2 separate regions of the Homo sapiens genome follow, and region 1 is linked to region 2. Evidence: fine-mapped expression QTL. A gene starts in region 2. The other region holds a variant in brackets. All regions are shown on one strand. Distances are from middle to middle.

The links. PIP is the estimated chance that this variant, and not a neighbour inherited with it, causes the effect.
Region 1: its variant is fine-mapped to the expression of DEUP1 in nasal epithelium (TOPMed, PIP 0.98).

What each region holds. Positions count from the first base shown.
Region 1 is chr11:93,396,084-93,399,003 of GRCh38, forward strand. DEUP1 (deuterosome assembly protein 1) reads left to right here. Exons shown (of 14, transcript NM_181645.4): 11 at 156-242. Among named protein-coding and RNA genes, the nearest start is that of DEUP1, 67 kb to the left of the region's middle. RefSeq lists an enhancer at 2,584-2,920. The variant G/T (reference allele first, on the strand shown) is at 1,162.
Region 2 is chr11:93,329,138-93,332,037 of GRCh38, forward strand. DEUP1 (deuterosome assembly protein 1) reads left to right here and starts at 1,605. Exons shown (of 14, transcript NM_181645.4): 1 at 1,605-1,635. RefSeq lists an enhancer at 1,244-1,745.

The sequences.
Region 1 (2,920 bases), 67 kb after region 2:
AACTAAATAAGAATACCTGAATGTTATTGGTCGTACCGAAGAAGTGTTTCCCTTCATTACACTTAGAAAATATTTGTATTCACAAGACAAAATTTTAATAGAATTATGAGTTTTTATTATGAATTTTACATTTGCCTTTTATCTGCTAATTTCAGGTCTCAGATATGAAATATAAAGCTGTCAGAACTGAAAACACACATCTAAAAGGAATGATGGGAGATTTAGACCCCGGAGAATACATGGTAATATGCTGACATCATTCAATAAATTGAACAAAGAGATTACTGAATTGGTCACGATTAACCTAGACATCATTTATTGAGCACTTGCTGTGTGTTAGACATGAAGGAGTTGGGTGGTAAATTATCTTGTGCTTCAGTTGAGGTTACTTTTATCCTCAGGCTAGAACATTGGAATGTCTGGTTTTCTCCCTTGTTCTTTGGTTGGATTGGGCTCAATTCTGATCATTTCCCTCAAATATGCCAAGCATGCTATTTCCTTGCTTTTCTTCTTGCTGTTGCCTTTGAAATCCTACATCCTATGTGGCCTGATTCAAGTGCCAATCTTCCCCTCAACGAAGCCACCCCTGAAACCCCAGTCAGAATGAATGCCACATTTAGTTCGTATTTTGTTCTGACTTGTTTTGTTGCTTGTCACTTTCCCAGTGGATGGCAAGCAGAGAACCATGTCTTATTGGTGTTTGTTTCACCAGTACCTCACATCTCAGGCATAAAGTAAGTGTTCAATGAGTGTTGGTTGATTTAAAAGAGGGAGAAATAAATGAATTATTCAGGATAAGGACTACTGGTTTTAACCAATGGCTCTATAGGTTTACACAAAGGAACTTAAACAGGCTCTGTGCATCCCCTTTCAATTGTTTAATGTAACAATAGAAAATTGATTTTATATGAGAATTTTTATTTATTGAATGAATGAAATATCATTGTTAACTTGTTTATCATTTATTTGCTCTGAGAAAATTCTAAAATAATTTTCTACCATATGAGGAATGGAAATGATAAGAGATGAATATGTTAATTACTTAATTAGGCCTCAGTTTCCTTAGCTATAAAATGAGGGAGTTGAATTAGACATTCTCCATTGGCCCTCCTTAAGCTATGATACTATATTTCTGTGATATTATATACTTGTTCTCATAAT[G/T]GTCCATATTCTAGCATCAAAAGAGTGCAAACATTCTGGAAGCATTCTGTCTTCTTCTTTGGGCATGGTTAATGGATCCTGTGATTGGAGTACAGATGGATAAAAAGTAAGGCATAAGTGATTTTCCTATTTGTTACATTAAAAAAACTGTGTGTCATCTATGACATTTTTATTTCTAAATGCTGAACACACAAAAAGTTAAATCAGATCCTGCCTCCGTGAGTGCTTTTTTCACTCACAAAATGGTATTTGTATTTTTTTTACATTTCAATTTGAATGTTTTTAAGTGTATATTCTGGGTCGTCACAGCCCCCACTGAGCCTGCCTAATTCTGGCTCCTTTAGGTGTTTGACTTTGTTCACCTTTTTGTGTTTTTAAGAAATAGCAGACACAGAGATGTATAAAGAAGCTAATGATCCACAACCCTATCCCAATCCAAAGCTATCCAGTGCTAACGAATTAGTGTTTGTTGTAGCATTCTGTAACTTTTTGCTTGCATATGCACACATAAGGAGGAGATGGGTTGAATGTTCTTTTACAGAAATAAATGTATAATATATACATTATTCCAAAACTGCCTTTTGACAGTCCATGAACACCTCTACAAATCAGTAGATGAACATCCCTTTATTTTTCCTAATTTCTTAGAAAAAATATATGAGCATATAAGATATACATAATTTTTTATAAATTTAATCATAACTTACATAAGGGCAATTTTAGTGCAGTCACTTTGTTGTTGCTGCTTGCTTTACTCCTCCCTCTTTCCTCCACTCATCTACCCGCATTATACCCCCTCCTCTAGATGATACATGTTAACTACTTGGTATGTATTATTTTAAACTTTTTCAGATATATATACATATAGTCATATAGTACCTATTTGGGGATTTTATCATCTTTTTAAAGTTGAATCATAACACGTACTTCTCTGTGTCCTGTTTTTGTTCACTCAACAGTATCCCTTGGAATCTTTCCAAGGTAACTAATTTAAGCCTATTTTATTTTTATAATAGCTTGATAATATTCCATGGTGTGTATCAAAATTTATTAAACTATTTTTATACTTATTTCAAGGATAATTTATTCCACTCTGTTTCCAGAGTTTTGCCCGAATGAACAGTACTGTAAGAAAAATCCTTATACTTACACCTTGGAATAGCTTCCTAGGAGTAAAATTGCTAATTCAAAGGATATGTGTGTTTTAATTTTAATAGCTATTGTTAAATCATATGTCTACCATCTTTGTATGAGTACCTTTTAAAATTTCATTCTTGTAGGCATAGGTGTTATAGGTCTTTTTAATTTTTGTCATTCTGATGGTTATAAAGTAATTTCTCAATAGCTCTTTAATTTGCATTTCCCTGAGTACCAGGTGAACATATTTTTGTATATTCATTGACAATGTGTACCAATATCAATTAGATATATCCTTTGCCCATTTTTCTTTTGGCTTATTTGTCTTTTTCATGTCAAATTTTTTTTTTTTTTTTTGAGATGGAGTCTCACTCTGTCACCCAGGCTGGAGTGCAGCGGCATGATCTTGGCTCACTGCAGCCTCCACCTCCCGGGTTCAAGCAATTCTCCTGCCTCAGCCTCCCAAGCAGCTGGGATTACAGGCACATGCCACCATGTCCAGCTAATTTTTATATATTTTTAGTAGAGATGGGGTTTAGCCATGTTGGCCAGGTTGGTCTTGAACTCCTGACCTCAAGTGATCCACCAGCCTTGGCCTCCCAAAGTGCTGGGATTACAGGTG
Region 2 (2,900 bases):
ACTGGATTTGGAGTAAGATGATCTAGGTTTACATCTTGATGTATCATCCATTTCAAGTGCAAATCCATGGACAAATCCATGGACATATCCTTCATTCTCTCTAAGCCTGGGTTTCCTAATCTTCTGAAAGAAGCTATTAATAACACCTGATACACTTGCTGAGTGTATTTCTGAGCCTCTAAAGAAATAATGAACATGGAAGCACTTAGCAATGTTACATAGCCTTAGTGATCTTGGGCATCCTGAGATTTCATTAAATTTCGTTCCTAGTTCCATTTTCCCTTCCTTGGGTTAGAAAAAATACATTGACCCATTCAATTCAGATAAGAATAAAGAATATACGCGTTTTCAGAATAATGAAAAGTTTCAAGTTAAGATAACACAGTCACTCTCTTCATGCAAACATGAGAGCTATGAAACACCTGTTAGAACTGATATCCCAGGTGACCGTATACAATTCATCTATGAAGCTCAATTTGTCAAGAAACAGCATAATGGTTTTATAAAATTCAGATGGGACCTGGACGGAGGGATGTGGGTGCGCATTAAATTCATAGAATATTAAAGTAGCAAATTAGCGTTAAAGTGATGAAAGTAAAGTGCAAATAAAAGACTTTAAGAATTAAGTAGTCGACTCCATGTGTTAGGAAGGAATTATTTGGTTAAAATAAATCAAATACAAAATTCAAGTGCTTAAAACAAATCACTCAAGATGTCAGTTGGAAAACATATATTCTTTCCTATTATTTCCTCTATGAAATGGAGACAGAAAATCTGTCATCAATGACTCTTGGAATTTGGTGGAAAAAGGAAAGAATCTGGAATCAGTCCCGTTGAGTTTCGTTCCAGCTTCTCCTCTTAGAAGCTATTCTCTTCTCCCTGAAGGGAGGCAACACTGTCCGTTCGCCTGACTGGCAGTGTTTTAAGGACCCATCGCGCTTGACGGGAAAGTCAGGTACAAGCTGATGCTGTTATCACCACAGGAACCAGGGGCTGAGCGGTGAAATCCAGCTCCTCCCAGCTGGAAGACGCTAGGGTGAACGGAGATAAAAGCAGTTCTCTTTACCCGAAGTTTATTTCTTTTTCATGCCACTTCAAATTTGGGTAAGAGGAAAGAGGGCCAAGGGGATTTAAGGAACCTGGATGATGAACTCCCCAGCGGTTTACAGTTCCTTCGTGATCTATTTGGTTCATTCATTCAACAAGTATTTCCGGGCTGCAGCTTGGGTGCCCAGCCTTGGGGTAGGCAGTGGGACTACAAAGAGGAAAGGACCCAGAATAGAGGGGGCACTGGACGTATAACTGCGGGACAGCGAGGTCGCGCTCGCGCGGGGTGAGGTTGGAGGCAGCCGAGGAGCCGCACAGGGCAGCGCCTGCCGCCGCCGCCGCGCCCATCCCCCACTCCGACGGCCACGAGTTCGGGCCGCGACGTCCCCATGGCAACACGCGGCGGCGCCGCGCGCGGGGAGGGAGAGGCCCAACTGCCTCGTTGGTCGCGCGGCGGGAGGGCCCAGGCGGCGGGAGCGCGGCGGCGGGTGGCGGGGCCCCTTGGGGCGGGCCTGGCGGGGCGGGAGGTGACATACGCGGTCCTGCGCCCTCGCCTCAGACCTCTCGGGCGAGCGCGGCGCAGCGCAGGTAATGGCTCCTGGCCTTCCCGGCCCCGCCTCGCCCCTGACCCTCACCCAAAGGCCAGGCTGCGCGGGTCCTCGAGCGGGACAGGGGAACCCCAAAAGGGCGGCCGCTCTGCGGGAGGCTGGGCTTGAACCGAGCGCGGGTCCTGGAGGGGCGCGTGGCGCGGGGACAGAGGCTGGGAGGGGAGGCCCGCGCTTGCAAATCCAGAGCAGAGCTGCGCCCTAAGTTAGAAGGACTGGGCTTCAGTTGTGTGGCCTTGGGCAAGCCACTTAACTTGTCTGTGCCTCAGTTTCCCTGACGTTTAAGTGAGATATTTGAGAATCTACAAAACCATTTATTGGTCTGCTCCTTCTGGTCAAGTTTTCCTTCACCATCCCTGCTCCTCTCCGCTCTGTCTCTCTTAATTCCAGGGTCTCTCTTAAAACTCTTCGATTTGGAAGTGATGTGAGCTCGAATCTTCCTCCTCTTTCTACCTCCTTGAATGTTCTTTAATTGACTTTTATTCAGTGATTCGGAGGAGTTGAAGTCCTTTTCAATACTTTCTCCAGTTATCGTCATAGATTATTTTTTAACTAAAATTGTGTTACTGAGAAAAACTTTTTTTTTTTTTTTACTTTAGGCAAATGCTAACATCCCTATTTTGTCAAGAGGTGAGCCAGTGCCCATAGAGCCATTGAAGAATTTCAAGATTTCTTTTTAAAGGCATTCTTAGCCTTTTTGTCCTAAATCTCATAGTTATAGTCATCCTAACAAAACCCAGATAGGGCCAAAGAAAGAATGTACTCAAATAAAGGCACACCTTTAGGGGAACCACAAGAATAGAAAGTTTGAGAACATCTGGCTAGAATTTCTCTTTTAATGGGAATTCTGTTTTACTCATTCTCATGTACTGAGCCGTTTGCGAACAACGTAGTACAAGCTATTATTCAATAAGTAGTAAATGGATGCTCATTTTAGTCCGTACCACATATTTCAATAAATCACTAAGTCAATATCGTAAATGCATAGGGGTCGCTAAACAAAAAACTCAAGTTTGGGAGGCCGAGGTGGGTGGATCACGAGGTCAGGAGTTCGAGACCAGCCTGATCAACATGCGAAACCCCGTCCCTACTAAAAATACAAAAATTAGCCGGGCATGGTGGCGATTGCCTGTCCCAGCTACTCAGGAGGCTGAGGTGGGAGAATCGCTAGAACCTGGGAGGCAGAGGTTGCAGTGAGCTGAGATCGTGCCTCTGCACTCCAGCCTGGGCCACAGAGCTAGACTCCGT